5 linked regions of the Homo sapiens genome follow. The protein of the gene in region 4 purifies or fractionates together with the protein of the main gene of each other region. This does not show direct contact. Each region holds a gene or a part of one and is shown on either strand. Other genes may lie near its edges. The genes, in order: DPH6, CASKIN2, USP24, B3GAT1 and BZW1.

Region 1 (6,379 bases), on a different chromosome or scaffold from region 4:
CAATTTGACCTACAAATAAGTGATTTTGCTAGTCAAAAGGATAAATAGAATAAGATAATGGCTGTATTTATATAATATTTTTATATTCTTGATAAAGAAACATTCCTATTTACTATCTCATTTAAAACCTACATATTAATAGATTTGAACACTTGTTTCATTTTTATTTTATTTATTTTCTCTCTAATTCCATGGTGGATTTAGGGCAGTTAAAAAAAATACAGAATTTTAAGAGTGAATGAAGGGAAAACAAGGTAAAGCATAGTTAAGTGAAGAGAAATATGATCTTACATTTTAGAGGTGTATCAGAATCTCTGGACGATGGATGATGATGATGGAGTGGGGAAGGAGGTCATGTGTATTTTGAGAAACTTTTCCTTACATTCTACCTAGATGTAGATCTACCGTTGAGAACAACTGATCTGCAGATGGAGATGAATTGCATATCCCTTAAGCCAGACATTAGAAATAATAGTATTGTCATCAAGTTTTAGATCATATTCTCTGAGAATTATTTAGTTTAAAAATTAGTGTTTTTTAAGAAGTTCAAACCCACAGGCTTTAATGGGTAGCCAAACTGGAGATAGGGATGACATCTATTTATGAAAGTTAAAAAGCCAAATAAAAATGTGCTCCTGATTAGGAGGCTGCCCATTACATATATGTGTATATATATATGGAAGAAGGGCACATGTCATGCCCATGGGTAGAGACTTTCTCAAAACACAATCACTGGTACACTTCAACACACGGTTGAACAGATGAACAGACGTTATATTATAAAGCATATCTGCAATTATTTTATCCTTGAAACTTCAAAAGTAATGTTACTGGGAGTCCATTGGTCCACAAACTCAATTTTGAATTAGCCTATGCCCAAATTTTAGTTTGTGTTGTATTATTACTAGTTCTTGCTGTCCTCTCACCCAGTGTTTAATGCCTACTAATCAAAACAGCCTCTCTACCTTTTTAAACTAAGATTTATTTTTTTATGGACAAAAAGTTTTTTCTTCCTGTCCTTATCGTAAAATTCGTGGTTGTTGCTTTGAAATTCCTCAAAATCTCTTGACTATAGACTTAAGTAAAATTTTTTAACCTATTTAAGTTCTTTAACAGTTCAAAATATCATGGCTCAAATAAACTTACTCTGTAAATCACTGCTGAATTTGAACTTGTGACATCTATTAAACACTTTACATTCTGCAATTATGTTTGTATTACATGGGTAGTTCACATTTTATTCTTTTTGTATTTATTAACTGCTTCAGCATTGCTTTAGATGTTCTGAGACATTTTAAAAGGGAAAATTACACGCAACAATCTCTGCAATGAGGAAGGTTTTGGTTTTTTGAAAGTCAGGGTATATGTAAATGAAAAAAATAGTGATATTTTTAAGGCCATGTATGAATAAATGACCAAACATGGTACATTTAATAAGTATTGGGATCTCTGAGAGAGAGAGAGAGAGAGAGAGAGATCAATATAGGCCAGAGAAGTCGGCCAAGCAGCCTTACAGATGCTAGGGACGCTGGGTTTTACTTATAAACCTTATAGACACTGGGTTTTAGAGCTATATTCTTGGTTTGAAATCTGATCTCAGCCAGTTAGTGTATGACTTGGGCAAGTCACTTGGCTTTGACTATCATTTATTGAATACCTGTTTTATCCAGGCATTGTACTACATTATCTATATTACCTTTAATTCATTAAACAATTATAGTCCTCTCTGAGAAAGTGACATTTAAGCAAAGGCACGAAACTAGTGTAATAGGCAAGAATGAGCAGGCAGCAGTGAGTGGTAGGATGGAGTGAGAAGAGAATAAGTAGTAGGAAATAAAGTGCAGGAACTAAACAGGGTGAGATCCATGGAGTGATGGGGAGCCACTGGAGGGTTTTGAGCAGAGGAATCCTATGATCTATTTTATGTCTTCTTTTTTTGTTTGTTTGTTTTTTGAGACAGAGTCTCGCTCTGTCGCCCAGGCTGGAGTGCAGCGGCGCAATCTCGGCTTACGGCAAGCTCCGCCTCCCAGGTTCACGCCATTCTCCTGCCTCAGCCTCCCGAGTAGCTGGGACCACAGGCGCCCGCCACCATGCCTGGCTAATTTTTTGTATTTTTAGTAGAGACGGGGTTTCACCGTGTTAGCCAGGATGGTCTCGATTTCCTGACCTCGTGATCCACCCGCCTTGGCCTCCCAAAGTGCTGGCATTACAGTCGTGAGTCACCGCGCCTGTCCTATTTTATGTCTTAAAAGGATCACATTGGCTGCTGTGTTGAAAATGGATTTTAAAAGGGTGAGGGTGGAAGCAGGGAAGGAAATTAGGATGTTGACATGAGAGAGAATGGTGGCTCAAACGAGGTTGTTAGCAGTGGTGTTAGTGAGGAATGATCACATTCTGCATTGTGGTAGATTGGATGTGGAATGCGAAGAAAAGGAAAGGATGATTTCATTTCACATTTTTTAATCCTCTTAAGAACTTTGAAAGGAACTATTTTTGCCCCTATTTATGAACTAGGAAACTAAGCACAAGGACTTAGATTTTACTTGACTTCAAAAGCCATGCAGCTAGAGTACAAAATGAGGTTTTAAATTCAGATGTGTCTTCACTCCAAAACCTATATTTTTTCTACTTTACCAATAATGGAAAATATCTAGTACAGTGCCTGCAGCATTGTACTTTTTTTCTTACTATTTTCTTTTTATTCAAATTCTTAAAAAAAAATTCAAAGTTAGTAGATAAGAATAGTTCACATAACTGTAGCTATTGTTAATTTAATAAATATGTGGCTATTTTATTAGGATAAATTATTGGCCCACTTTACATATGCTTCAAAATTTTGATACCCATGAAAGTTTTAAAAATGAGAGTATACTGGCATTTGTAAATTCTTTTACATAGATTTCTAAACTAAGAGTCTTACTAAAATTAATATTTCTAGTGTGCCTGGAAATTTCATTTTTATCAGTTTATGCATAACCCATGGAAATTAAATATGTTTATGTTGTATATATAAACATTATGCAAAATATGTTTTTAAAAGCATTTTCAATGCTAAAATCCTTGAACGAAGCATTATGTTTCAAATCAAAGTAATTGCTGTGGATCCAAGTATAAAACATTAAGAGATCATCTGACTTTCTTTTTCTTTTTCTTTTGTAGGTGTAAAAGGCTTAATCTCCAGCCTTTAGCTTATCTTTGGCAGAGAAACCAGGAAGATTTGCTCAGAGAGATGATATCATCTAACATTCAAGCAATGATCATCAAAGTAGCAGCTTTGGGTATGCAGCCAAACTATCAAGGGAGCTGTTTGTTGCCACATAGATGATCTCAGTTCACTAATAAGTAGTTAAAATGAACAAAGAAAACTGATTTAGAATATAAAAATGTGGAGTCACAGCTGAAGAAATTGAGTAAGCACCTTCCTTGCATAAAGAAAAGGAAGTTTTAAAGTGGTCTTTTGACCATTTGCCGAAGTGATTACTAGTAAGGCTTTTTTTTTTTTTTTTAACATATAACAGGTTCTAAAACTGATATTGTATTATAGTCCTTCATTTTAAGTTCTTTTTTTTTTAGGGTTTGGAATTTAGGCTTGTAGGAAACAGGAAATACAAGGGTTATTTTTGTTTTGTTTTGAGGTTTTTTGGAAGCTTTTTATAATATGTATTTGACACAAAACATTTTCCTTGTATTTTTTAGCATATTTTGAATAATGCTAAAATAGAATGATGGTTTTGTTTTTGTTATAAAAAATAAATAGGGTACTGGTTTTTGTTGGGGATGGTGAGAAAATCATGTTTGAGAAAAAGTTATCTGATTAGTTAGCATAGACACAGCAGGCAGGTGGTAATCTGATTCAAGTATGGACATTACATATGAGCACATTTAATTTATTTGGAATTTCTATAATTATATTCATTTTTGAGAAACCGTAGGGTTTGAGCCCAGTCTGTTCATTTCGTGAACCTGTTATAGAAAATGCCCTGAAACCTGAGAGTTCCCAAAGCCTAAATCATGTACCTCATTTGAAAGTGTTTACCTTGCAGATCTCTGAAATAACAAGGTCTCAAGCTGTAGAAGATTTTACAGATACATTCAGTTTTTAAATAAAATTAAGAGAAATAGTACAGACCCCATAATATTTCTCCATGGTAAATACCAAGCTACTGTATTCTTGCTGAAGTTGAGGTGTTGTCTTCAGTTGAAGCCTTTATTTAGTGAATCTGTAGTTGATCTCCTTAGCTGTTAAAACAAGAAAGATTGAGTGATATTATGTTTTTATTTCTGAGAAAAGGTTGCTGAGCAGCTCTCATGATTAACGTTATTATATTTGTCATATGAATTTCTATGTGACTCTGTACAGAGTATTCCCTCTTGCTTTTTCTTTGTCTCTCACTCTCTCTTTGAATTTTCTAAGATTACATAATTCCATAATGAAGTTCACGTGACGTCTCACTGAAAGGTACACATACTATTCCTTTTACTGCCCGATAGATAAAAGACTGGATTAGGACCCAGAGAGACCTCCCTTATTGAAAAGATAGTCAAAGAATTTGACCTTATTGCCATCTTTTAATAGTATATAACCGATATTGTGTGTTCTTTCATTTCTATCTGTGCCTCTCTGTAGGGATTAGAGATGGGGAATTAGCTTTATCAAGCCTTTGGGTAAAATGTAAAAACTGAGCTGATTTGTCTTTGGCATCTCAGTAACAAAAATATAGATCTGATTTTAACATTTACAGCACTGCCTGTGTGCTGACTGCCTATAGGTGTGCAAAGATGAAAGTTATTCTTTAGAATAATATTAAAGAAAGGTTTATTAAATGGCACAGTACTTCTGAAGACATAGAAACATATAAATGATGCAATATAGGTTGCTAAGCCTTTTTCCTCCCATTTAAAATTATCAGAACAATTTTAAATGGATTTAAGCCAAAAAAAAGGGACTTTTTTTGGATTTAAGCAAAAAAAAAAAAAATGAGACAATAAGACCTTTCTGTGGGGGAGAGGGATCAGTAAAATTTTGTGGACCATTTTTCTATGAAATGGTCTTATAATAGAAAAAGGTCAGTTCTACATGAATGCATACAAATATATTTTTTATAATTATGGTATGTAACCTTTATGTCTTATAGGCATCAATGAACTCATAAAATTTCTGGCTTCTTTGTTTCATTATAATGTTTTAAGGGACTCATCCATATTATTGACTGAAGCAATAGTGTGTTTATTTTTATTGTAGTATAGTGTTCCCTTGTGGGAGACTGTAATTTAATTAAATTTAATTAACACCACAATTTAATTGTCCATTCTATTATTGATGACATATAGGTAGTATCCAGTTTGGCACTGTGATAAACAGTGCTGCCACGAAGTGGTCATCTTACACATTTTCTATCCCAGACCTAGAACATCCTTTTTTTCAGGAAGCCCTGATTTCTTTGAATGTGAAATGATATATGTCTGTATGTGTATATCTAATGACTCATGAGTTCATGATATTTCACAATCAAATTCAAGACAACATAAGGATTATCATAATTCTGTATTCCATCACTGCACTCTTTCTTCCACAGTGAATCTTGATTATCAAGGTCACAAGAGATATTATTTATTAGAAAATCCCATAATTTTTGGGAACAAAAAGACCAAATAGCAGATCTATTATCCATTCTTTCCAGTAACTGGGGTAGGCTTCCTGGAAAGAAAGAAGAAAGAACTTCTATAATCTTTCTATAAACATATAATTATAGACCTCATGGCAAAAAACAAACAAAGAAACAAAAAATCACTAATGGTATTTACTAGAGGGGAAGAGTATCTTTGGACTGCTTTTAGCAGGATATATCTAGTTGCTAAAAAAGAGAGAGAAATGATAAAGGAAAAACGTGAGACCACTTTTACCTATTACTGGAAAACCTCCTGTTTCTTGAAAGATATATTTGTTTGCAAAGTAACTAAATTGATCACTAGAAAAACTATACTGGTTTAAGGGTTAGTTTGTTCAGTTAAATGATGGTGTAGTAACATTGACTATGAAAGGAAATAATGCTAGGACTCTACTTATAAGCTTTCTAGGATTGCGATATAGGAATGAGATGATGGGGGAGGAGGCAAGTACACAACTATATATCTTTCCCATTTCGTAGATTTTTTTTTTGTTAGTTTTGCCTGATCCAATGGTCCTAGGCTCGAGTTTAAAGTTGCACATACCAAAGGAAAGTGTTGTCAATGCACAAAACACAATATCAATACATTACATTGACAGTGCATATTCTTAAAGGCCTTTAGGGGTATGGATAACTTCACTCTGTGTAGGCAAATTAAGGCCTATCCATAAACACAAGCCAAGTGTCTTGTGATTCTTATCTGTCAAATC
Region 2 (5,767 bases), on a different chromosome or scaffold from region 4:
AGTCAGCACCCCCTCCTACGCCACCTCCCCCGTGACTCCCCCCGTCCACTGCAGGCAGCTCCTGAGAGCTGGGATCGAGATCAACCGCCAGACCAAGACGGGTACGGCGCTCCACGAGGCCGCACTGTATGGCAAGACCGAGGTGGTGCGGCTGCTTCTGGAGGTGGGTATGGGCCCCTGCTCCCTCGCAGGTGTCCATGGAGCCTCTGCCCTGTGCCCCTGACTGGCTGGGGAGGTACGGGACGGAGGACTCCAGCGTGGTTTTTGCATGGGCGTCAGGAAAGAGGCCTGACTTCCTTCTGAATGGTGCCGAGGCGGTGCAGATGGATCGGGGGCAGACCAACCTGATTGGCACCCCAGATCTGCCTCTTACTAGCTGAGTGAACTTGAGCTTGTCCTTGACTGAGTCCCTGAGCCTCTATGTCCTCATCTGTAAAATCGGAAAATGGTAATAGTACCTATGTCCCGGGTAGCTGAGAGAATCGGGTGAGGGGTGTCAAAGTGCTTAGCGTGTGCTCATGTGACACTGTGCACCCAGGGAGGTGTGGACGTGAACATCCGGAATACGTATAACCAGACGGCGCTGGACATAGTGAATCAGTTCACCACCTCCCAGGCCAGCCGGGAAATCAAGCAGCTACTGCGGGGTGAGTGCGGGGGAGGATACCCTGCCCAGGGGGCCTGGGGCCGCTCAAGTGGTACCAGGATGTGGAGGGGGAGTGGACGTCCCTGGGGGAGGGTTGTCAAGGGCATGAGGGGTGGGAAGATGCCCTAAGGACCCTTAGATGACACCTGTCCCCCACCCCGTTTTCTTAGAGGCCTCAGGGATCCTGAAGGTCCGAGCGCTCAAGGATTTCTGGAACCTCCACGATCCCACTGCTCTCAATGTCCGGGCAGGGGATGTCATCACGGTGAGGGACCCCAAGCAGGCATTCCTTTGCAAATACAAATGATTGCTGTTACTTATTTGGGCACCTGCTATGTTACCACGTTCTGCTCTGAGGTCTCTATATGCACCCTCATTTAATTCTTCTTAAAGCCAGGGAAGGCAGTGCTGTTAGCATTTCTTCTTTACAGATGACAAAATTGAGAATTAAACAAAATAAAATCAAGAGAAATTCAAGTGACTTGCCCAAGGTCACACAGCTAGCAAGTAGTGGAGCTGTGATTTGACCACGGGCTGCCACTGGGGCTCGCCCTGGAGGCACAGGGGAGATTGAGCTGGCTGCTGGCAGCAGGGGCGGAACTTGGGCCAGTGTGGGCATCAGAGGCCAGCTCCTTAGGGGTAGGGAAAGAGCTGGACCAGGGTTGCCGGACCGCAGCTGCAGGGACAACCGTTTGCCACTTGCCTGGTGCTGGGAGTGACCGTCCCCGCCCCCCACCCCTGGCCGCAGGTGCTAGAACAGCATCCCGACGGCCGCTGGAAGGGCCACATCCACGAGAGCCAGAGGGGCACAGACCGCATAGGCTACTTCCCCCCGGGCATTGTCGAGGTGGTCAGCAAGCGGGTGGGCATCCCTGCAGCCCGCCTCCCCTCCGCACCCACCCCCCTGCGCCCAGGCTTCTCCCGGACACCGCAGCCTCCTGCCGAAGAACCCCCGCACCCTCTTACCTACAGCCAGCTTCCTCGGGTGGGCCTCAGCCCAGACAGCCCAGGTACATCCTCCCAGGGGGCAGTGCTGGGCACTGTGTGGGCGTGTGGCCTGGGCAAGCTGCCAGACAGCTGTCAGAGCGACACTTGGGACTCTGACCCCTTGGCTTCTGCCCCCCACAGCAGGTGACAGGAATAGTGTGGGCAGTGAGGGCAGCGTGGGCAGCATCCGCAGTGCCGGCAGCGGGCAGAGCTCTGAGGGCACTAATGGCCATGGCCCTGGCCTCCTGATTGAGAACGCCCAGGTAGGATGATGGGGTCACGGACCAGGTCAGGGCTCACTCCCCACTGCCAGTTCCCCAAATGCTGAGTTGGCTCCTGCCCTGTCTCCTCCAGCCACTGCCCTCTGCTGGAGAGGACCAGGTGCTGCCAGGACTCCACCCGCCGTCCCTGGCAGGTAGGAAGGGTCAGGGGACCTGGGTTGGCTAGGAGAGGTGCAAGTAAGGAGGCCGAGGGTGGGCACCCCTTCCTCCTGCCACCTTTCCATTCCATTTTTCTCTCTCCTTGAAGACAACCTGAGCCACCGCCCTCTGGCCAACTGCCGCTCTGGGGAGCAGATCTTCACCCAGGACGTGCGGCCAGAACAGCTGCTGGAGGGGAAGGTGTGACCTCCACGGGGTGCACCGTGGGCCTCGGGGGGGAAGGTGTGACCTCCACGGGGTGCACCGTGGGCCTCGGGGGGGAAGGTGTGACCTCCACGGGGTGCACTGTGGGCCTCGGGGTGGGTAGGGCAGGGTAGAGGCAAGAGCCTCTGTATGGACTGAAGCCCCGCTCAGGCAGGTCCTGAGCCCCTGGTGGGGGCTAGGGCCTTGGTCCAGCTCCTGCTAATTCTGCCCCCTTCCCCCACCCCGCAGGACGCGCAGGCCATTCATAACTGGCTAAGCGAGTTCCAGCTGGAGGGCTACACTGCCCACTTTCTGCAGGCCGGCTATGATGTGCCTACCATCAGCCGCATGACACCTGAGGTGGGTGCTGCAGCCGGGAAGCAGCACCCAGCGGGCGGGGGAGGGCCCAGCAGGCGGGGGAGGGGCCTGATGGCCAGACTTTGTGTGGCAGGACCTGACGGCCATCGGGGTGACCAAGCCTGGGCACAGGAAGAAGATCGCCTCAGAGATCGCTCAGCTCAGCATCGCCGAGTGGCTGCCCAGCTACATCCCAGTGAGCCATCAAGGGTGGCTGGGGAGTGGGGCACGTGCTGTCACCCTCAGCTGTGGCTTTGCGGTGCCTTTTCTCCTCTGGCTGGGGGCGGAGGCTGGCTGGGAGTTGTTCTGAGGACGGTGCTCTTCCAGACGGACCTGCTGGAGTGGCTGTGTGCACTGGGGCTGCCACAGTACCACAAGCAGCTGGTGAGCAGCGGCTACGACTCCATGGGGCTGGTGGCCGACCTCACCTGGGAGGAGCTGCAGGAGATTGGGGTCAACAAGCTCGGTAAGGACTGTCCTGAGGCCTGGCTGGGCCCCCACCTGCCTCCGGGGTCTCCAAGAGAAGACAGTATGGGGCCCAGCGGTGACCAGGACAACCCCAGCCCCAGCTAACCTTGCCACTTCCGTCCCCCATCTCAGGGCATCAGAAGAAGCTCATGCTGGGGGTGAAGCGGCTGGCGGAGCTTCGGCGGGGCCTGCTGCAGGGGGAGGCCCTCAGCGAAGGCGGGCGCCGGCTGGCCAAGGGTCCGGAGCTGATGGCCATCGAGGGACTGGAGAACGGAGAAGGCCCAGCTACAGCTGGCCCACGGCTCCTCACCTTCCAGGGCAGCGAACTAAGCCCAGAGCTACAGGCGGCCATGGCAGGGGGTGGCCCTGAACCACTCCCCCTCCCACCTGCCCGCTCTCCCAGCCAGGAGAGCATCGGGGCACGCTCACGGGGGTCTGGCCACTCACAGGAACAGCCTGCCCCACAGCCCAGCGGTGGAGATCCCAGCCCCCCCCAGGAGAGGAACCTCCCAGAGGGCACAGAGCGGCCCCCTAAGCTTTGTTCTTCACTTCCTGGCCAAGGACCCCCACCCTATGTTTTTATGTACCCCCAGGGCTCACCCTCTAGCCCGGCCCCAGGGCCACCTCCTGGCGCACCCTGGGCCTTCTCCTACTTGGCCGGGCCCCCTGCCACTCCCCCAGACCCGCCTCGACCTAAGCGCCGGTCCCACAGCCTAAGCCGCCCTGGCCCCACAGAGGGGGATGCTGAGGGGGAGGCCGAAGGGCCAGTGGGCAGCACCCTAGGCAGTTATGCTACCCTTACCCGGCGGCCAGGACGCAGTGCCCTTGTCCGGACCAGTCCTAGTGTGACCCCAACCCCAGCTCGGGGGACTCCTCGCAGCCAGTCCTTTGCCCTGCGGGCCCGGCGCAAAGGCCCCCCGCCCCCGCCCCCCAAGCGCCTCAGCTCCGTCTCTGGCCCCAGCCCGGAGCCACCTCCACTAGATGAGAGCCCAGGGCCCAAGGAAGGGGCCACAGGGCCCCGAAGGCGAACACTGAGTGAACCTGCTGGCCCCTCAGAGCCCCCTGGCCCACCTGCCCCGGCTGGGCCCGCGTCAGACACGGAGGAGGAGGAGCCAGGCCCTGAGGGGACGCCCCCATCTCGGGGCAGCTCTGGGGAAGGGCTGCCGTTTGCAGAGGAAGGGAACCTGACCATCAAACAGCGCCCGAAGCCCGCTGGCCCCCCGCCCCGAGAGACACCCGTGCCCCCCGGCCTCGATTTCAACCTCACGGAATCAGACACTGTTAAGCGGAGGCCCAAGTGCCGGGAGAGAGAGCCACTGCAGACCGCACTGCTGGCCTTCGGAGTGGCCAGTGCCACGCCTGGCCCCGCTGCCCCACTGCCTTCCCCAACTCCTGGCGAGTCTCCTCCAGCTTCTAGCCTTCCCCAGCCCGAGCCCAGCAGCCTTCCAGCCCAAGGAGTTCCAACCCCCCTTGCTCCCAGCCCCGCCATGCAGCCTCCAGTGCCGCCCTGCCCAGGGCCAGGTCTGGAAAGCTCAGCAGCTAGTCGGTGGAATGGGGAGACAGAACCCCCGGCCGCCCCTGCTGCCCTCCTCAAGGTGCCCGGAGCAGGTAAGAGGGGAGGCCTGTGGGAGAGTCACTGCTGGCAGGGTTGTGTCTGACCCAGCCAAGTCCCAAGCCAACCTTTTTGTCTCTGCAGGAACAGCCCCCAAGCCTGTGTCGGTGGCCTGCACCCAGCTGGCATTTTCTGGCCCTAAGCTAGCGCCCCGGCTCGGCCCCCGCCCAGTGCCTCCTCCACGGCCTGAGAGCACTGGGACTGTGGGCCCAGGCCAGGCCCAGCAGAGACTGGAGCAGACCAGCTCGTCCCTGGCAGCTGCACTGAGAGCCGCAGAGAAGAGCATTGGCACCAAGGAGCAAGAGGGGTGAGGGGGGCCGGATGGGGAGGGAGAGAAGGCTGCAGAGAAACAGTGCTCCCTGCATCCTCTGCCCAGGGATCATGGGGATGTTGGAGGGGGACATTGCAGGCACTAACGGGATAAGAGGCCAGGTGTTGAAATCACCTAGATCAGGGAATCCTGGTGGCTACCATTTAAGAGGCACAGGAGCCTGGCCGGTCCCTTGCCTCCCTGAGCCTCTGGGAGCTATGACAGCTCCCTGCCCCAGGGCCAGTGGGGTGCAGGCCACTGGCTGATCTGACCGCATCCTTCCCCTTGCTGCAGCACCCCCAGCGCCTCCACCAAGCACATTCTGGATGACATCAGCACCATGTTCGACGCCCTGGCTGACCAGCTGGACGCCATGCTGGACTGAGCCCTCCAGCAGTGCCCACTGTGACCTGCCGAAGTCCACTGCCTTTGCCCCAGCACAGAAGAGGCCCCTGCCACCCTAGGGACGGGCCAAGGGCTGGTCAGGCTGAAGTGCCCCTCCTAGCAGGGCCCCTTCCCACTCAGCCCGCGGCTGTGGGCACCACAGCTCTTGTGGGGCAGCCCACCTTAGAACCTGACTAGCGAGGGACCTCCGCTGCATCTCAGCAAAGCCCCTCCCAGGGTTTGATCGATTGAGCAGGACAGCCCTGCTCCTGGACAGGGACCCTGGTAAGAGCTCTCTCCTCAGGGAGGAAGTAGGGGTGGGGCTTTGGGGGTGCTTTCTCTGTACCCCCCAGCCCATGTCCCAAGTTGTGCCAAGGGAA
Region 3 (6,379 bases), on a different chromosome or scaffold from region 4:
TTTTACTCAGCTTTTTGGTTAGAGATTTAATAGTCATGTTTAAACTGAAATTCTTACCAAATTTTGAAATTTCATAGTTTGAAAGATGCTATTTATTAAAAAGTAGTTCTCTTTATAAAGAGTATTACACAAACAGTAGACTTTTTAGATCTGTACTATGACGATCTGGATTGTCATATACCAGTTTCAGAAATAATATATTTGGAAGTGTTTTGAAAAATGTACAGTGTAAGTGTAAAATGTCTGTAATAATAAAAATAGAATTACCTCTTATGAAAGTGTTTTAACTAGGAAATACAGATTATGAATATTTTCTTTAATATTTAGACCACTACCAGTGTCTTGATCATATCATTGGTATCCTAGTCATATAATCATAGAAAGCAATATTCTTACTCCATTTTACTTACCATGCAGTTCAGTGTTATCCAAGTTAAGCTTTGGCCATCAGTTTATTTTGTGTCAACATGACTTAGCAGCCTGTGCTACTTAATCTATCCTCTGAAGTTGCTAATTCCTTGTTGTCTGTTTTTTGCTGATGTACCCCTGTACATTTACTGTCACTTCACATCCACTCCTGTTTGCAGTTCTTAGCTTTAGGAAATTGCATGCAGAATAAGAAGTTGAAGACTGAATTATGAGTGCATGGAGATAAGCTCTAAATGGTCAATATAAAGAGTAAAATAATAAAATGTGTAACAGTAAACCTGATTGACTTGAAATTTTTTATAGCTAATAAATGAATCTGCTGTTTATTTCTAAATTTAATTAATGTAACTTCTTTTTAACTCTAGTCATCTCAGCTTAATAATCCCCAGTTTGTATGGGTGGTACCAGCTTTGCGTCAGCTCCATGAAATTACTCGCTCATTCATAAAACAAACCTATCAAAAGCAAGACAAGGTAAGGGTATAGCTATTTTTTATTATTATAGTTACTTGCATAACTTTTACAATAACAAAACATGGCTAAAATTGCTGAGTTTATAGTCACTATCTTTATGTTTATTGATGTAATTCACTTATATCATCTAATAATCTTGAGTTTAAGCATCATTCTGCTTTCATTTCTGCAGAGCTTTTTTTTTTTTTTAATCTCCTTAACTCATTTTCTTTTTATTTGCTTAATTTTCAAATAGTTAAGCCAGTTTTTAAAAGTTAGAATGGCATTTTAAAAATTGGTTTGAAAAGATTAAAAAGCTTGTTGCTTGTTTTGTATCACAAAAAGATTAGTTTGCTTAAAGTACTAGAGTTTCCTCAATGTATAGACTTGGGAAGGATGATCCAGAAAAGTATACAGGAAGTGAAATAGTTATTTTTATAGGCTTTTTAAAAAAATAAATAAAATGAATATTTTTAGATGGAAAACATTAGTAGTTTATTAATTTTCTAGTAAATGTACATACCAGATTGATTTTATTTACTTTTGTGTAGGAAATACGAATGAGGAAATTCTTATGTTTGCTTTGTCTCATCTAGGACTACATCTTTAAATAGCAGCTTGTATTAAACCAGCAAAATAACTGCAAATTCTCATTACCACTTTTCTTTTTGTTATTTTCGCCAAGAGCATTATTCAAGACTTGAAGAAGAATTTTGAAATAGTGAAATTGGTAACGGGAAGTTTGATCGCTTGTCATCGGCTTGCAGCTGCTGTGGCCGGGCCTGGAGGCTTAAGTGGCTCGACACTAGTGGATGGCCGGTACACTTACCGGGAGGTATCAGGCCTTGTGTTTTTGCTTCATGATTTACAACATTAATTTGACCTTTTTATACTTATACTATAAAAAGAATTTTTGTTAGCTGTAACTATAAAGAGGTTGTATGAGGTATCTTTGTAGTGAGGGAACAGTTTTGTATCTTGGTGTTTGTGAGTTATCTTTCATATGATGAAGGAATAAACATCTTTTTTTTGTCTTTGATCTGAAATAATAATTGCTAATTCAGTGGATAATGGGTTTTGTTTTTCAAATCAATTGATTAGTAACATTATTGTTTTTTAAAAAATTAGGAAAAAAATCTTAACTCACCAGTTGTGAGTTTGTAGTGTTTTACTTTGAGATTGCTGAAATTACATTTTATTGACATCCAAAATCAACTGAATTTCTAATAGACTTGAGATAGATAGCTTCTATTACATTGTACTATCAATTTGTAAACAGAATTCTAATATTTACTTTACCCTAAATTATATGAAAAAGGATTAAGTAAAACTGTTGTTAAAACTTAAAGTTTTGTTTTGTTTTAATGTTGCTTTTAGGAATGAATGCCTGGAGTTAACTAATTAGCATTATTTCTTTTTGCAGTATTTAGAGGCACATCTAAAATTTCTAGCGTTTTTCTTGCAAGAAGCTACTCTGTATCTGGGCTGGAATCGTGCCAAGGAGATCTGGGAGTGTCTTGTAACTGGCCAGGATGTTTGTGAATTAGATAGAGAGGTAAGAAGGTGGTATTGTGGATAAAGTAAGGCAGAAATATTTAAATATTTCACTTTTTCTGTGTGTCTCACATCTTCTAAACACTTTTCAGTTTATATAAGCATAAATAGTATGGGCCAAGAACTGTAAGTGCTGAAAAAATGTTTTATATAACATATATTCATGATAAAAATAAATGTATGAGTTCTTTGGTAATTTTGATACCATTCTGGATAAAATACCAAATTTAACCAAATGAGTATAAAGAATTCTAGATATATTTAAGTTTTTTCCCTTCCATATGAAACTAATTTTAAGTTGCCAACAGAAAACTTTGAGTTCCTATAATGATGTTGCACCCCAAAAACAGTAAAGAAGAATTAGTACCTGGCCACATTTTTTTGTAAACTATAATTAAGCAGCCAAAGATAGATTAAATCAGGAACAGAACACCTGCCTTGACATTTTCTAGGAGTAAATTTCATTTTCCTCATCTTATTTGACAGAATAATATTAACTACTTCCTAGACTTGTCGAAAGGCTTCACTATTGTGATAGTGCCCAGCATAGTGCCTGTTGTAAGCAGGCAGTAAATGTTGATGGAAAAACCCAAGTATAAAATCCAGTGAAAAGTATGAGTAGATATTTTTATTATCTAGAAGAAAGATTGCTAGTAACTGCTTCATTTAATTTCAGAATTCCAAGCATTTTAGCTTTGAGTGGTATTTTGACAGTATAAACATTTGAAGTATTAAAATGTATCTTTACTTTTCCAGTTTGGAATATGTATGTGCCTGAAATGGATCTTAGTTATAGGGTGATATTCGTCTTATTCCACAGATGTGTTTTGAATGGTTTACAAAAGGACAGCATGATCTTGAGAGTGATGTTCAGCAGCAGCTCTTCAAGGAGAAAATTCTTAAATTGGAGTCATATGAAATCACTATGAATGGTAGGAAAAAACTTAAAATCATTTTTTTCAGTACTTTTAAGTAAGAAGTGTTATTCTTTCCTTTACTTTTAATCCTCCTTCTCAGAAGCAACTAAACAGTTAGGAATATCCTTCTAGAATTTTTCTTGTGCATCTAAAGACATATTTAGTACTCAAATTCCTTTCTACATGAATGGTATCTTATAATTAGTTTTTAAATCATATGGCCTGCTAGATCAAATTGCCAAATTGTCTTTTTAAAATTTCTTAGTACAAAAGGGTTCATTAAGGTAAAAATGTATCAAGGTATAGAAATCCTCCTTTCAGATGTTTCTTTTCATTGAATTTTTAAATTGAGATATAATTTACATACCATGAAACTCACTTTTTAAAGTGTACAAATGGTGGCTTTTAGTATATTCACAAAATTATGTAACCTTCACTCTGTTCCAATCCCAGAACATTTTCATTACCCCAAAAATAAACCTATACCCATTAACAGTCACTTTCCATTCATTTTATCCAGCCTCTAATCTATTTTCTGTCTTTATGGATTAGCCTAATCTGGACATTTGATATGAATGGAGTCATACACTGTGATCTGTCGTCTCTGGCTTCTTTCATTGTACTAAGGCATAATGTTTTCAGGGTTCGCCCAGGTTGTAGCATGTATCAGTACTTCGTTCCTTTTTATGGCTTTATAATATTCCACTGTGTGGGTATACCATATTTTATTTATCCATTCTTGAACTAATGGACATTTTGATTGTTGCCACTTTTTGGGTGTTACGGTTAATACTGCTGTAAACATTCATGTACAAGTTTTTCAGTGGGTACGAGTTTGCATTTCTCTTGGATGTATATCTAGAAGTCAGATTGTTCTGACATATAATTAACCTTTCAGGAACTGTCTGTTTTGCAAAGTGCCACGCTATTTCGTAATCCCACCAGCAATATATGAGGGTTCCAATTTCTTCACATCCTCAACAATACTTGTTATTATCTGCCTTTTTTTATTTTAGACATCGTAATGGGTATAAAGTGGTATCAAAATTTAATGGGTGTTTTTTTGGTTTGTTTGTTTGAGATGGAGTCTTACTCTTGTCGCCCAGGCTGGAGTGCAGTGGCACCATCCTGGCTCACTGCAACCTCCACTTCCCAGGTTCATGTGATTCTCCTGCCTCAGCTTCCCGAGTAGCTGGGATTATAGGCGCATGCCACCATGCCTGGCTAATTTTTTATTTTTAGTAGAGACAGGGTTTCACCATGTTGGCCAGGCTGGTCTCAAACTCCAGACCTCAGGTGATCCTCCTGCTTCAGCCTCCCACAGTGCTGAGATTACAGGCTTGAGCCACCGCACCCGGCCAAATCTAATGGTTTTAATGTGCACTTCTCTGGTGACTAATTATATTAAGCATCTATTTATATGTGCTTATTGGCCATTTGTTTATATTCTTTAGAGAAATCTTAAAATCTTTTGCCCATTTTAAAATTGGTTTGTCTTTTAATTCTTGAGTTGCAAGGGTTCTTTATATATTCTGGGTACTAGCTCCTTATCAGATAGTTGATTTGCAAGTATTTTCTTCCATTATGTGAGTTGTCTTTTCACTTTCTTGTTAATGTCATTTGAAGCACTTAATTTTGATTATATCTGATTTACTAATATTTTCTTTTGTTGCTTCTGCTTTGGTACCATATCTAAGAAGCCAATGCCAAGAGTCTTATGGTTTTAGTTCTTGATCCACTTTGAGTCTTTTCATTGATTATCTGTGTTACGTAGAGTACATGAATTTATTTGGCATTCTATAATTACAGGTTTTAACTTATTTAAAACTTTTTTTGAAAATGTGAATCTTTGTGATCATCGATTGAAAAGACAAGGAGCTCAGTTGGTAAGTACGTTATTCTCAAATCTAGATAGTTTGGATAATCTAGTATAACTTGATATTCAGCAAAAAAAAAAGTGTTATAATTGAGAGATAACATGGATTTTTTTGGTAAAGAACAGCATCTCCTTGACTGCCAGCTTCTATGTTGATGACAGAGCTTCTCCTAGTGTAAGGGAGGCTCCTACCTGCACTACCATGCCTCACCAGCTACCTGCGAGGACACTGCTCTCTCTCACATCTCTCTGTTTCTGGCTGATCTAGGGACAGCCAGTGGCCTCCTGTGGCCACATGAATGCAGAGCAGGGATAGTTCACCTAAGCTTCGAACTCCTCAGATCCAGCAATTCACATGTACCTAAAAAAGCAAGAACAGTCTTCGTCCTGGGATCACAGTGGCAGGGATTTGGGGAGAAAAATTGAGGAATAGACAGTGAGGCAGGAAAACTAGGATGTACAGCTTATGTTTATATTTACACATGCTCCTTTAAAAAAAAAAAAGGCTTATTAACTCTTTTTCCAAGTCCTTTTTATTCAGGACATGGCTTCCTGGGTGGTTAGAATTTTTACAAGATTTTACAAGCCCTGGGTCCTACTGTTTACTACTGAGCTTTAGAAAGACCAGATTGAGCCCCAAGAATTAGTGACCACTTCTGGCTTGACTGTTTCCTTTTGAAGAAAAGCTCCTGAAGATGGTGCCCATCTCACTCCTGCTCTATTTCTGCTTCAGTAGCCTGTTGGGCTGTGTGTCCAGTTTGGGTCTAGGGATGTCTGAAGAGATATCTCTGTACCTATCCTGGTTCCCGTGGAATTTGCCCAGTGCTTCTGTGGTTGGTTGCTTTTTAAAGTTCCATATCAGTATAATATTATTTTCATATAGCTGAGGTTTTGCAGCCTTAATTCATATTGAACTGAAGAGGTGTGGACTCATGATGTAACAAAATAATTATCTGTGATTTTGTAACTTTGTGATCTTGATATGCTTTATAATTTAATTTTTTTTCTTTTGAACAGTATGTAGAAAAGCTGGAATTGATAGGAATGGATTTCATTTGGAAAATAGCCATGGAATCACCTGATGAAGAAATTGCTAATGAAGCTATTCAGCTAATCATAAACTATAGTTACATTAATCTAAATCCTAGATT
Region 4 (6,114 bases):
GGGGGTAGTCGAGAGCCACAGAAAATAAATAAAAAACAATTGAGAAAATCTTGATGGAACAATTGAAAAACTCTCGAAGGAAAAGGAGGGGCAGGAGAAATGTTTACACAGTGTGGGAGGGAGCAGGGAGGCAGCAGAGTGAGGTCAGGGGCCTGTCCCACCATGTTTTGCATCTCTGGGCACACAGATCCTGGTGTGGCACACACGGACAGAGAAGCCAGTGCTGGTGAATGAGGGCAAGAAGGGCTTCACTGACCCCTCGGTGGAGATCTGAGCCTCAGGATGCAGGTATGGGCATGACGAGGGTGGGCCACACACTGGGCAGGGCGGCACCAGGTTGGGCCGAATCAACTGTCTCATTCTTTTCCTCTTGGGCTTTCACTGTGGAGGACAGGGCAGATGTGGGCAGGAGTGGAGGGCGTCGTCACCACAGTCCCCTTCCCACTGGGCCACCTGAAAGTATCCAGGCATTAACTTTCACCCACGCAGCTGGGTCCTTCTGCCACCAGACTCTTCAGAGGGTGTCACCTTCCAAACATCTTGCTGATTTTTCTGCTGGCAGTGACGCCTGCACCCCACAAGGCACTGCCATTCAGACTCTCGCTGGCCAGCGTCTGTCCCCCCAAGTCTGCCTCTTCCCCTGTGGATTCCTTCACCACGTGGCCATGGTGAGGACTCACGGACTCGCTGCTCCACAGCAATGAGCCCACGGCTGTCATAGTGAGAGGTAGCGCAGAGTGACAGCACGGACCCAGAGCCCACCTCAGCTCCCAGGACCCCTGCTCTTCACTGTTTGACCTGACTTGACTTTTCTGGGCCTCAGTTTCTTCATCTGTGAAGTAGGTTGCTGAGAGCACCTAGAACAGTTCATGGCACTTAAATCTCATCAGTGTGGCTATTTTTATTCAAGTCTTTAAAGCCCTCTCTGGAAGTAGGCCACAGGATCCACCTACACTTCAGAAGCAAAGAAATGATGTTGAGAGAAGCTAAATGAATGTTCCAAGGTGACACACTGGCACGAGTGAATTGTGCTGGGTGGTTGGCAAAGCCAGGCATTTTCAGGGGCTTTTCTGTGATCTTATCCTGTCTCTTAAAAGCAGCTGGTACTCCTGACTCCCTACTCTAGGTTATGCCAAACAGAGGTTGAGGCCTGAGACAGACATTTGTCCTCTTGCCCTGGAGCTAAGCAATAGCTTCTGTATTGTGTTTGCCCGCAGAGGACCACAGGGTGTCACTCAGTCACCTTGGCCAGCGCCACTTAGAATGCATCTGTACCGAGCCTCACTTCTGCCTCCTGCCCTCACTGCCCTCACTGGAAGCACCTTCCCCACCTGCCCCTCAGAAAGGCCCCCACAGGACCTGGGGGCCTGGGCTTTGCAGAGGTCCTGGTGGCCCTGCCTGGCCATTCCCTCCCCGGCCCCACCCTCAGCCGACACCTCACTCATTCCTCCTCTCCCCTCACAGGAGCCTCCTCCTCAGACCCTGTTCTTGGCCTTCCATCCTCTCCCCACGGCTGATGGTCCCTCCAAGGCCGACTCCTAAGGAATCACCATCACCCTCCTTTCTATTCTGGGGGCTTCTGAGAGAGCCCAGCCTGATGCCAGAACAAAGGACAGAGAATTTAAGCACAGAAATCCCAGACCTGTTGTTCTCTCCATCCAGCGTGACCAGGGCCCGAGAGACCTGATGGCCAGGGTGGGGTGTCCAGCACCAGCCAAGCTGGTGCTCCAGCGCACCTCCCCAGAGCTCCCCGCACTGACGGGGCTGCAGGAGCAGGTGCAGTGGGCGCCCACACTGGCCCTGCAGTGATGCAGGGCGGGAGGGAGATAAGAAGACCCCGCAGTCAAGTGGAGCATGGCCCTCCCTGGCTCCCTGTCCCTGGGCTCAGCACGACCACACAGGACACCCAGCCAGGGAATTCTGAAGACCAGAGAGCAGCCCACGGGCATCACGAGCGCTCTGCTCCTCTCCTGGGCCCCTGCTCTTCCCGAGAGCTGCCCCCAAATCAGACATACCTCTGTGGCTCTCCTCTGGTTCACGTTTACAGAGCATAAGGCTGTCTTGGATCCCAACAGGCACCCAGCCCTGCATGGGGGGAGCCTGGGCCTAATAGGCACCCCCTGTACCTCAGGCTGTGGCGGGAGCAGAGTCCCCCCCTCCGGCCCCTCTTCCTTTACCCCTTCTCCTCCAGCAGTGGCAAAGGGGTAGGCTCTAGAGCCAGCACAGGTCACTGCCTGACCTGGACTAAGAACCCCACGGCCCCACTGTCCACACACTGCCTCCCCACCGCCCACCTCGGCTGCTAGGCCCCTCGCCTGGACTGGACTGGGGAGGGAAAGCGCCTTTTCCTGCAGCTCTTCAGAGCCACAGACCTCAGGGTGGAGTGAGCCCATGGTGGGCAGTGGGCAAGGCGGTGGGTGGTGGGCAAGGTGGGACCTCCTGCAGCCTGGAAAGAGGAGGGAGGCCAAGGCCATTCCCTAACTCCCTCCTGCCCCTGGTCTGAGGAGGAGGGACTCTGGAGTAGCAGAGGGGCTGGGAAAGAGGGGGCAGGGGCTGCTGGGACACTGAGCAGGAGGGAGGCCTGAGCACACTGCTTTGGAAATTATTCTAAACACAAAAAAGGGAAAGAAAATGTTATTTCTCCCTAAGTCAGGAGCATGCAGAGCTAGCCCACCTCATGTCCAGCTGTCCACTTTCCATCCTGGAGAAAGAACAGTGTGCCTCAAACTCCTGCCCTCCCCAGGCCTCTGGGGCCCACTGGAAAGGGCTCTGACCCCCTGGCCCAGCCGGGCTCTCTAGTGGTGATCCGGCTCATTCTCCTGCAAGTTGGAAGCACAATTTTCCCCCCAAGTGGAGGAAAAGGAAAGGGCCCCAGCCTACTGAAGAGGTGTTTATTTTTTAACTAACAGCCTCCCACCCCATTAAGACTCACCAGGAGAGGTCTGAGGGCCATTCAGAACCCACTCCTGAGTGGGTGGGTGGGTGGGACTCAGTCCAGAGACCTAACATTCAGAATATAGCATTGGTTGCCTATTTTGAGATGGATTTAATCTCCCACAGTATTCATGAGACCATCTGATGGAATCAGATCCCTGAGCCACCTTGCAGGACGTTTTCCCCAACCTCTTACACCCTGGATGTCACTTTGGAAACCAAGCCCTTGGAAGCAAGTGGGGTGGCATGGGAGAGAAGGGAGGAGGTGGGCACAGGTGGTGAGCTTATGTGTGGGCACTCTACTGCCTCACAGAAGCCAGCCAAGTGCCAAGGTCAGCTTGGCTGGTCTGAGGCCACCTTCTTAGCCAAAAACCTAGGGTTCATTTTCAGGACTTTGATAATGAACAACAAAATGGGGACTTCTTTGGGCAGATGCTAGGTCAGTTGTTTTCACCTAATATCCTCTTTTAGCTGCATGTATATTTATTTATAATTATAACCCTGGTGGACTGCAGCCTTCATCTTTATTGGGAATGAGTTTGTTATAAATCAGAAATGGGTCCATGATGACCACTGTTTTCCAAACCCAGTCTGTTCCCTGCTCCCTCGCTGGCAAGCCCCACCACACAGGAGTGAGGCCAGGGGCTAGGAGTTCTAAGAACAGAGGCTGGGGTGAGGGTGGCACCCAGGCAGCTGCATCTGGTCTGTTTTAATTTAACTGTATTTAATTTGCTTTCAAAATTAAAAGTCAAATACAGTTTTTAACAGTCCTAATCCTCTTCAGCCCTGCCTTATTTTGTTCTCATTTATTAATTTAGCTACCCAACAAGTATGTATCAGGTGCCTGTTATGAACAGGCATCATTCTAGGAGCCGACACACAGCAGTGAGAAAACAAGGCTCTCATTTTCAAAGAACTGACCCACTGACGAGAGGAGACAGGCAATAACGAATGCATATTATTTCAGATGCAATCTGTTGTATGGAGGATGAGGGTGAGTCGGGGAGACAGAGGTAGCAGTGGAGAGGGTCAGTGCTCTGTAGGGTGACCACAGAGGCCTCCGTGATAAGTGACCCTTGAGCGAAGCAGCAACACCCTGACATGCAGCTCCCCGGGCCCAAGAAGAACGAACTCTCCACCAGGCGGAACAAGCGTTGCTCAGCCTGCTTACAGATCAGCAGGAAGGCCATCGGGCTCAACTGACGGGGCGGGGGCTGCTGGGGGCAACAGCAGTGAGGGATGTGGTGGGCGTGGGAGAAGGGAGTCCCCAGGCACCGGGTGAAACCAGAAGGCAATAGGGGGTCCAGTACGGAGGACTAACATAATCTATCCATCTCTAAGAAGAACTGCCCTGCTCCTCCACGGAGGATAAATGGAGAGGGCAAGGGCAGGTGGAGACGTGGCTCCTGGAATCATCCAGGCCAAGATGCAGTGGGCTGAGTGGGGGCATGGGGTTGGGGCAGAGAGAAGCAGTCAAATTTTGGCCAAGTTTAGGAGGCAGAGCCAGGAGGATCTGCTGCTGGATTGGATGTGGGAGATAAAGAGAGGGGTCCAAAATAGCCCGAGACACAGAACAGCACTGCCATTTCCAGATACAGGGCTGCGTGCAGGAGGGGTAATGTGGGGAAATGGAGCTCTGTGTCAGGTGCCTGTTAGACACATGCAGAAGAAAATGCGCCCCCACACACCTGGAGCTCAGGTGCAGCCCAGCATCGGCGGGCGCGGGTGTCCAACCTGTTTACAAACCACAGGTGCACGGGTGAGACCCTATGCAGTGAGTGTGGACAGAGGAAAGAAACAGCCCAAGGAGTGGGCCAGAGACCCCCAGCATTCAGAGGCTGGATATGAAGAGGGATTCTCCAAAGAGACCTAGATGAGGCCATACCGTGTGGAAGATAATGGAAACATCTTTAGTCAACGCTGGAGAATAAGCTCTGCCAAGAGGTACTTTGATAGAGAAGCTGAGCAATTAACTGGCAGAAAATAAGGGTGAGAATAAGAAGCTGGTGTAGGAAGACCTCACCTTAGGAAACCACAGTGTGTCCTGCTCAGGTCTGCGTGGAAGTGTGATCCAAGGGGCTTCTCCACCTTACAGGAGGATTTGCAGGAAGGTTCCCTTCCATTCCATCACTTTCTGACGGAACCAGCTCATACACAGCTCTGCAGAAGCACACACTCAGGTAAAGCGGGGCAGAAGACCCTGCAGGTGGCTCAGGCCACACCCAAGTAGCCCGAGTCTCATCCACATCTTAGCCCCATGCTTGTCGTTCCGAGGCAGTTCCAGAAGAACTGGTGAGTTTGGGCAAAACCAGGGACTCTGCCCCATGTTGTTCCCAAGCCACTGTCCACAAGCTTTCCTTTAATAAGCTCCATTTAATAAGCCCTTGACCCGGCTCAGCTGCTGGGCTGCACACCACGAATGTCCCCTGCACTCCCCCTGGGCAGCCACACACGGGCAGCAAGCCTGCTGGCCTCAGTGAGCTCCACGGCTCACCATCCCCCAGCCCACCTTCACGGGGCTCCCAGAGCTCTCGCTGTGCCGGGGATGTGTGTGCTACTTGACTTTCTGACTCTTACTGGAGATAATTTGGTTTTGGCAGTAGATGCCAGATGTAGTTTGTGAAGCAAAACTCAACCCCGCAGTTAACTCATATGGAGCGCCCTTGACTGCCTGGCAGATTCTTACCCCCGCCCACCAGCATGAGAATGAATTTGCATTTGAACTGTCCTCTCCAGGGCACTTCCAATCCAGAGACATTTGAAGGGAAGTCGGGGTCAGGAGGGGAATATGAGGCCAGGATCATGGCCCACCCACCCCAGGGACGGTCCCCATCTGGACCCCCAGGCGGCAAGTGGGGCCCAATGGGAACCTGACCAAGAAAACCAAGCTCTCAGACAGCCTTCCCTTCTGGCAAGAGTGGCACACATGACCAGAGACTATCACCAGAGGGGGTGTGATTCAAGGTTATAGCTTTACTGCAACTCAGGACAGTGAGCCCAAGCCAGGTGTTGGGCTGGGCCCCAGAACAAGGCTCAAATGCGGACTTGGACACACTTCGAAGGAGGGCTGCTCTGCCCCTGCTGTTCGGGCGTGGGGGGTGGGGGGCGGGGGCCACTGAGCTGGGCCTTCTGTCCTCCTCCCTGGATGTGCAGACATGGGCCATGGCTTCTGCCAGGACT
Region 5 (6,379 bases), on a different chromosome or scaffold from region 4:
TAAAGCCTCAAAAGAAGATACCAGAAAGAAACTTGAATTTCTCGTTGACTGCCATTTCACATACACCTTTAATATTTCTACTGCTTTACTGCTCAAGCCTTAATTTTTAGTATCAATATATCTCTAAGCCGGTTAGTGAATCTTCTTTTCGGTGTGAAGGTAAAATATTTTTAAAAATAAAAATAAGGGCTCTGTTTTCACTAGCAGGCAGTCTCATTTAAGCAAACTTAAATGAGCAAAAATGTTAATTTATAAAAGGAGAACTCCTAATGTAGTCACCCAGATTTTGTGAAGATTTGTGAGAGAAAACTCAGACTTCACCCATGGAAGTTAATTGTGGAACAGGATTCACATTGTAATGTCTTTTGAAATACAGACTTAGTAGAAAAAGTATTAGAATTATATTACTATTTTTTTTTTGCATTAGTGTGTACTTAGGTGAGTATTGAATTCTGTAGCAAAGTGCTGTGCTAGTGATATAAAGCTAAATAAGACGTAGTCTCAGATATATTTTTACTGTTTTTGGTCAAAAGCATATTAACCTTGTTTTACAGGTGGTTTTGAGGAAATGAAGAACTAGGTCAGCTACTGGTTATAAGTTGTGTTTTTCTTTTTCTTCCTTAAGTAGCAGACATTTTGAGATATATATTGTAGAATTTTAAAATCACTAATCATAGGCTGTCTGTCCCCTTGTAGTAGTGGTGGGGAGACCAAAGTGTGATTTGATTCTAATCTTTGCAGATTCATTTAGATTTAGCTGGTAAATTTTCTTAAGGAGCTGGAGTTGTAAACTAGAACAGTTTGGCAGTAAAATGGGAAAGTGTATCTCTTGAATATGTGGGTTACTGATGTTACCTTGATACAAATAATAGCAAGTAGCTTTAGCATTCTTATTATTAGCATCAGGGAGAGATGTAACTTCCCCGGTTCCAGATAGAGATGATTCGTGGCCTGGCTGTTGATGGTTAGGGTACTGGGTAGGGTATACAACACTCCCTGTCTGGGACTGAGGGAGTTTCCAGACACAAGACTTTCAGTGCTAAAACCAGGAAAGTGCTGGGCACTCAGAGGTGTTTGTCACCCTAGTACTGTGTGAACAGATGTCATCTAGCCTAGATTGGGAAAGCAAAACCCTATTATGAAGTGTGTGAAAGCAACTCAGTAAAGGTCAGGTATGTGCACAAGGCTGTGGTCTGGGAGCTTTCTATTTTATTAATGTCATTTGGTATTTACAACAACTTTATGGGATAGGTACTATTCTTATCCCCATTTTACAGTAGGGGAATTCTGGCATGGCGAGTGAGACTATTTGCTTGAATTCAGGTGGTTAAATGGTGGTCAGGATTTGAATCAGGCAGTTTAACTCCAGAGCCCATGTACTGAACTACTACACAATATAGTCTCTTGATTACCTAATTTCTCTGACTCTCAGTTTTCCTTCTGAATAATAGGGGGAAAAATCTGCCTCACAAGGTTGTTAACAGGATTAAAGCAAATGCTTAATATAGTTTCTGTCATTGGGTGCTCATTAAATGTACTTTCTAAAGCTCACCTTCATAAATGCCAAAGGATTGGTTCAATTTTTTTGTTTGTTTAATATTATGGACATTTAAGGAAAAGGATCAAGAGCTCCAGTGTCTGGACAAAACCCAAAGGAATAAAATGTACCTGTTAGAGGATGGCCTAAATTTTGGAAAAGCCAAGAGGCAGTAGGAGGGCGTTCCCAGTAGAAATTGGCTTATGGCAGTAGGAACACAAGACACTAGCACATTTAGATCACTTGTGAAATTATTTGAAAAGTTGCACAATTCTTGTGAGTGGGCCATCTTGTCTTACACTTGCAGAGGGGAAACATGCAAAGGATGTGAATTTAATCTAACTTATTTAACAATTGCATCTTCATAAGGTGATAGTTTTGTGGCATTTTGGTAAATCTTTTAAAACTAAATGTTTTGGGTCCCTTGTCCCCCCAGATGAAAAAGAGAGGTTTGACCCTACTCAGTTTCAAGACTGTATTATTCAAGGCTTAACTGAAACCGGTACTGATTTGGAAGCAGTAGCTAAGTTTCTTGATGCTTCTGGAGCAAAACTTGATTACCGTCGATATGCAGAAACACTCTTTGACATTCTGGTGGCTGGTGGAATGCTGGGTAAGTGTCTGTGGTTTGTGGGCTTAATAATTTAGAAAGGTATAATATATGGAGATTATGGAGAGTCTAGAATATGAACTATTTGGCAAACTTGTTAAAATGGAGTGATTTTTTTGGTTTTGTTGTATTTTGGTTTTATCCAACTTTAGCCCCAGGTGGTACACTGGCAGATGACATGATGCGTACAGATGTCTGCGTGTTTGCAGCCCAAGAAGATCTAGAGACCATGCAAGCATTTGCTCAGGTAAATGAAACTTTACATAATTGTTTTCAGTTGGCTACTATCCATGTGGTATATTTGAGGAATATTCTACTTTTAAGAGTTGTGGTTAGAAAGTTGAAGGAATTTGATTTTAAATTTTAGGGATACTGTTCTTGGTGCAACGGGATGAATTAGAAACTTAAGGTGTGTTAAGGCGAACAAAATAGGGAAAAATGAAATTAACTCTTCTGTTCCTATTTGTCCTGAAATTACTCAATTTTTAAGAAAAATGTCAAGCTGGAAAAGTCAGTTTCGTATTGTGATTTCTCTAGTTTATCTGCATACATTTATTTTTAAAGTTAAATGAGTTGTGAGCTGATTAGCTTGTTAATCAAGATCTCATTGGAAAGTTTCATACGTAGTTATGTTTGTGTTACTGTAAGCAAAGAATTAAAGTACATCTAACCTGGACATTCTTATGTGTCACTAGGAATTCTTCTCAAGCTGGTTTAAGCAGCTCATAAACTTACATCGAGTGAAAGGTTTACTACTTTGCTATTCTAGAAATATATGAAGTTACTGAATTCATTTAATGTTCTTCATAGGTTTTTAACAAGTTAATCAGGCGCTACAAATACCTGGAGAAAGGTTTTGAAGATGAAGTAAAAAAGGTATGAGTAATAATGTACTTTGTGGAAAAGAAAAAAATAGGGTTAGAAAGAGGAATGTTAAATCCTAATTCCGCCACAGATTTGGAGTAATTTTGCTTGTTTGTTTGGGTTGTTTTTTGAGACAGAGCCTCACTCTGTGTCCCAGGCTGGGGGTGCAGTGGCTCAGTCTCAGCTCACTGCAGCCTTTGCCTCCCGGGTTCAAGCGATTCTCGTGCCTCAGCCTCCCGAGTAGCTGGGATTACAGGCATGTGCCACCATGCCCAGCTAATTTTCTGTTTTTAGTAGAGACAGGGTTTCACCATGTTGGCTAGGCTGGCCTTGAACTCCTGGCCTCAAGTGATCTGCCCTCGGCCTCCCAAAGTGCTGGGGTTATAGGTGTGAGCCAACACGCCTGGCCCAATATTGCATATAGATGCCCAGAAAACTTGATATGTTTATCAAGCACCAGGCACTGTTCTAATGATACTAATTCACTCAATGTTTATAAAAACCCTGTGAGGCAAGTTTTATTATCCACATTTTACATGTGAGGTGCAGAGGTTAAGTAACTTGCCCGAGATCATTCAGCTAATGAGTATTGTAACTTAGATGTAAACTTGGATGGTTAGATCCCAGAGCCCACGTATTGAACAGGTAGCCAGTATAACATGCTTTACTGCTTCTCTTATTGTAATGCAGTTGCTGTTTTAACCCTTAATTGTTTTACTTTTTACAGCTGCTGCTGTTCTTGAAGGGTTTTTCAGAGTCGGAGAGGAACAAGCTAGCTATGTTGACTGGTGTTCTTCTGGCTAATGGAACACTTAATGCATCCATTCTTAATAGCCTTTATAATGAAAATTTGGTTAAAGAAGGTAATCAGCCTTAAAGGATGGTCTTCAGTTGACTCAGAGTGGGGTGGATAAGAGCATGGTTTACTGTTCATAGATGTGACTTCTGTGAAAGTCTTCGTTTATTAACCAGCCTTAAATTTAATAAGTTCAGTCTAATTCACTAGACATTTAATGAATACCTTTGGCATCCAGGTTTAATGGCTTTCTTTAGGCATACAACAGATACCCAGATTTAGACAAAATGTTGTTATATGTAATAAAAATAAAATGAGAAATGCTGTGGGAACCCCAGAAGAGATTAATACCAATTGGGAGACTTGGAGAAGATGACGTTTGGGGAAAATGTCAAGCTGGAAGGGAAAATCAGTTCCCTGTTTGGCTCCAATTGTCGGATTATTCTCTACAGTAATTTTTTTGAAGCTTTTTTTTTTTTAAAAAACTGCTTGCAGTAGTGAGTATTTAAGTTACCTTACTGTAATTCTCACAACAGTCTTGTCAAGTGTAGAGACTGTTGCCCTCAATTTATACTTTGGAAAACACTTTAAGTAACTTGGCCAAGAATATACAATTTGCAAGTGGTAGACTAGGGAGATTGGAGAAGTGATAAACTGTGGCCCAGGAAAGTTCAGGGTTAAGTTTGTGAGGAAAGTCAGTAATCCCATGTGATTGAACTATGAAGGGAAGGATATAGGGGGACACAGTGATTGAAACCAGGGAAGGTACTTCTGTTAATTAAGCTATTTTCTTTTACAGGAGTTTCAGCAGCTTTTGCTGTGAAGCTCTTTAAATCATGGATAAATGAAAAAGATATCAATGCAGTAGCTGCAAGTCTTCGGAAAGTCAGCATGGATAACAGACTGATGGTTGGTAACTTTTTTTCATTCTTCCCATTCTTGCCAAGGATGTAAATGAGAGAAATTTCTCATTTTTAAGACTGTGAAAAGAAAGTGTTTTTCTTAATCTGATTTAAAGAAAGTTTAACCAGATAAATTCTTCTTTTAGGAACTCTTTCCTGCCAATAAGCAAAGTGTTGAACACTTCACAAAATATTTTACTGAGGCAGGCTTGAAAGAGCTTTCAGAATATGTTCGGAATCAGCAAACCATCGGAGCTCGTAAGGAGCTCCAGAAAGAACTTCAAGAACAGATGTCCCGTGGTGATCCATTTAAGGATGTAAGTTTTTGTTTAAACCGTCTTTTTATGGCTAAGCTTCTGGCATAGAGATTTTCACTAATTTGAGGAACTTACTTCACCAGGATGAGATTGAGTTAATAGTAACAGGATGTTATACTGGAACTTTGCCTCATTCTTTTGCATATGCTTCTTCAGTGCCTGACTGAGGCCCAGAAATACAAGAGACTGGAGCTCAGGGCACCTTTCAGTTGTAAAGGTCTCTTTTTATATGTGGTACACATGTGGTTGCCAGTTGCATGGAAAAGGAGTTGTTAGTTTTTGTTAAAGGTCTAAACTTGATGTGTGAAGTATGTACATAATCAAAACTGACTTCTGTTACTAAATTTGGATTCATTTGCAGATAATTTTATATGTCAAGGAGGAGATGAAAAAAAACAACATCCCAGAGCCAGTTGTCATCGGAATAGTCTGGTCAAGTGTAATGAGCACTGTGGAATGGAACAAAAAAGAGGAGCTTGTAGCAGAGCAAGCCATCAAGCACTTGAAGGTATTAGAACTATGCCTTGACAAAACAAACTATTCTGCTTTCACGTGGTGATAAGTGAACTGTGACTATATTTTTCTAAGAGGATTTATCACATCCTGTGGTTCCTAGGGATGGCCCACCAGTAAATAAACAAATAGTAACATTAGCTATTGATGATAATGCTCTGAATTGGGCTGTGGTTCACAGGTTAAAAACAAGAATATGGCCTGGCCAGGCACAATGGCTCACGCCTGTAAACCCAGCACTTTGGGAGGCAAGGGCAGGAGGATTGCTTGAGCTCAGTTTAAGACGTGCCTGGGCAACATAGTGAGACCTCATCTCTACTAAAAATCACAAAAAATAGCCAGTCGTGGTGGCGCATGCCTGTAGTCCCAACTACTCAGGAGGCTGAGGCAGAGGATCTCTTGAGCCCTGGAGATCAAGACTGCAGTGAGCTTATGATGGCTTTGTCAGACAAAGCCTGGGTGACAGGGTGAGATCCTGCCTCAAAAAAAAGAACATGATGAAAAGGAACTTCAGCTTGTAATTAGATGTTTGCTTTTGAAGGGGGTATTGGAAAATAGGAATTTTTCCCCCCCTCTAAAATACTAATATTGTTTGACATTTACTTGGACTACTTGGTATAGTATTGTTTATTTTACTTAGCTACTTAGATTTTCTGCTTTTTTTTTTTTCTCTTGAGACAGTCTCACTCTGTCACCCAGGCTGGAGTGCAGTGATGTGATCTCAGCTCACTGCAGCCTCCATCTCCTGGGTTCAAGCAGTTCTGCCTCCTCGGCCTCCCAAGTAGTGCCTGGCTAATTTTTGTATTTTTAGTAGAGACGAGCTTTTACCATATTGGCCAG

Evidence for each region.
Region 1: the proteins of B3GAT1 (region 4) and DPH6 purify together in Homo sapiens (affinity purification with mass spectrometry; one large-scale study listed by BioGRID and IntAct). This does not show direct contact.
Region 2: the proteins of B3GAT1 (region 4) and CASKIN2 purify together in Homo sapiens (affinity purification with mass spectrometry; one large-scale study listed by BioGRID and IntAct). This does not show direct contact.
Region 3: the proteins of B3GAT1 (region 4) and USP24 purify together in Homo sapiens (affinity purification with mass spectrometry; one large-scale study listed by BioGRID and IntAct). This does not show direct contact.
Region 5: the proteins of B3GAT1 (region 4) and BZW1 purify together in Homo sapiens (affinity purification with mass spectrometry; one large-scale study listed by BioGRID and IntAct). This does not show direct contact.

What each region holds. Positions count from the first base shown.
Region 1 is NC_000015.10:35,447,584-35,453,962, reverse strand, and holds part of DPH6 (diphthine--ammonia ligase), read left to right. Parts: intron 1-3,159; coding exon 3,160-3,278; intron 3,279-6,379. UniProt on the Homo sapiens protein: Amidase that may catalyze the last step of diphthamide biosynthesis using ammonium and ATP. Diphthamide biosynthesis consists in the conversion of an L-histidine residue in the translation elongation factor (EEF2) to diphthamide.
Region 2 is NC_000017.11:75,500,701-75,506,467, reverse strand, and holds part of CASKIN2 (caskin-2), read left to right. Parts: intron 1-54; coding exon 55-163; intron 164-538; coding exon 539-647; intron 648-816; coding exon 817-911; intron 912-1,394; coding exon 1,395-1,656; intron 1,657-1,774; coding exon 1,775-1,896; intron 1,897-1,987; coding exon 1,988-2,048; intron 2,049-2,161; coding exon 2,162-2,253; intron 2,254-2,505; coding exon 2,506-2,616; intron 2,617-2,707; coding exon 2,708-2,809; intron 2,810-2,940; coding exon 2,941-3,079; intron 3,080-3,213; coding exon 3,214-4,689; intron 4,690-4,777; coding exon 4,778-5,000; intron 5,001-5,297; coding exon 5,298-5,388; 3' UTR 5,389-5,767.
Region 3 is NC_000001.11:55,142,986-55,149,364, reverse strand, and holds part of USP24 (ubiquitin carboxyl-terminal hydrolase 24), read left to right. Parts: intron 1-794; coding exon 795-902; intron 903-1,566; coding exon 1,567-1,716; intron 1,717-2,304; coding exon 2,305-2,436; intron 2,437-3,255; coding exon 3,256-3,367; intron 3,368-5,161; coding exon 5,162-5,238; intron 5,239-6,245; coding exon 6,246-6,379. UniProt on the Homo sapiens protein: Ubiquitin-specific protease that regulates cell survival in various contexts through modulating the protein stability of some of its substrates including DDB2, MCL1 or TP53.
Region 4 is NC_000011.10:134,376,098-134,382,211, reverse strand, and holds the end of B3GAT1 (galactosylgalactosylxylosylprotein 3-beta-glucuronosyltransferase 1), read left to right. Parts: intron 1-187; coding exon 188-274; 3' UTR 275-288; intron 289-394; exon of another isoform or gene 395-1,457; intron 1,458-1,464; 3' UTR 1,465-3,704; downstream 3,705-6,114. UniProt on the Homo sapiens protein: Involved in the biosynthesis of L2/HNK-1 carbohydrate epitope on glycoproteins. Can also play a role in glycosaminoglycan biosynthesis. Substrates include asialo-orosomucoid (ASOR), asialo-fetuin, and asialo-neural cell adhesion molecule.
Region 5 is NC_000002.12:200,813,368-200,819,746, forward strand, and holds part of BZW1 (eIF5-mimic protein 2), read left to right. Parts: intron 1-1,973; coding exon 1,974-2,150; coding exon of another isoform or gene 2,151-2,156; intron 2,157-2,299; coding exon 2,300-2,394; intron 2,395-2,957; coding exon 2,958-3,023; intron 3,024-3,738; coding exon 3,739-3,874; intron 3,875-4,606; coding exon 4,607-4,716; intron 4,717-4,855; coding exon 4,856-5,026; intron 5,027-5,387; coding exon 5,388-5,534; intron 5,535-6,379. UniProt on the Homo sapiens protein: Translation initiation regulator which represses repeat-associated non-AUG (RAN) initiated translation probably by acting as a competitive inhibitor of eukaryotic translation initiation factor 5 (EIF5) function.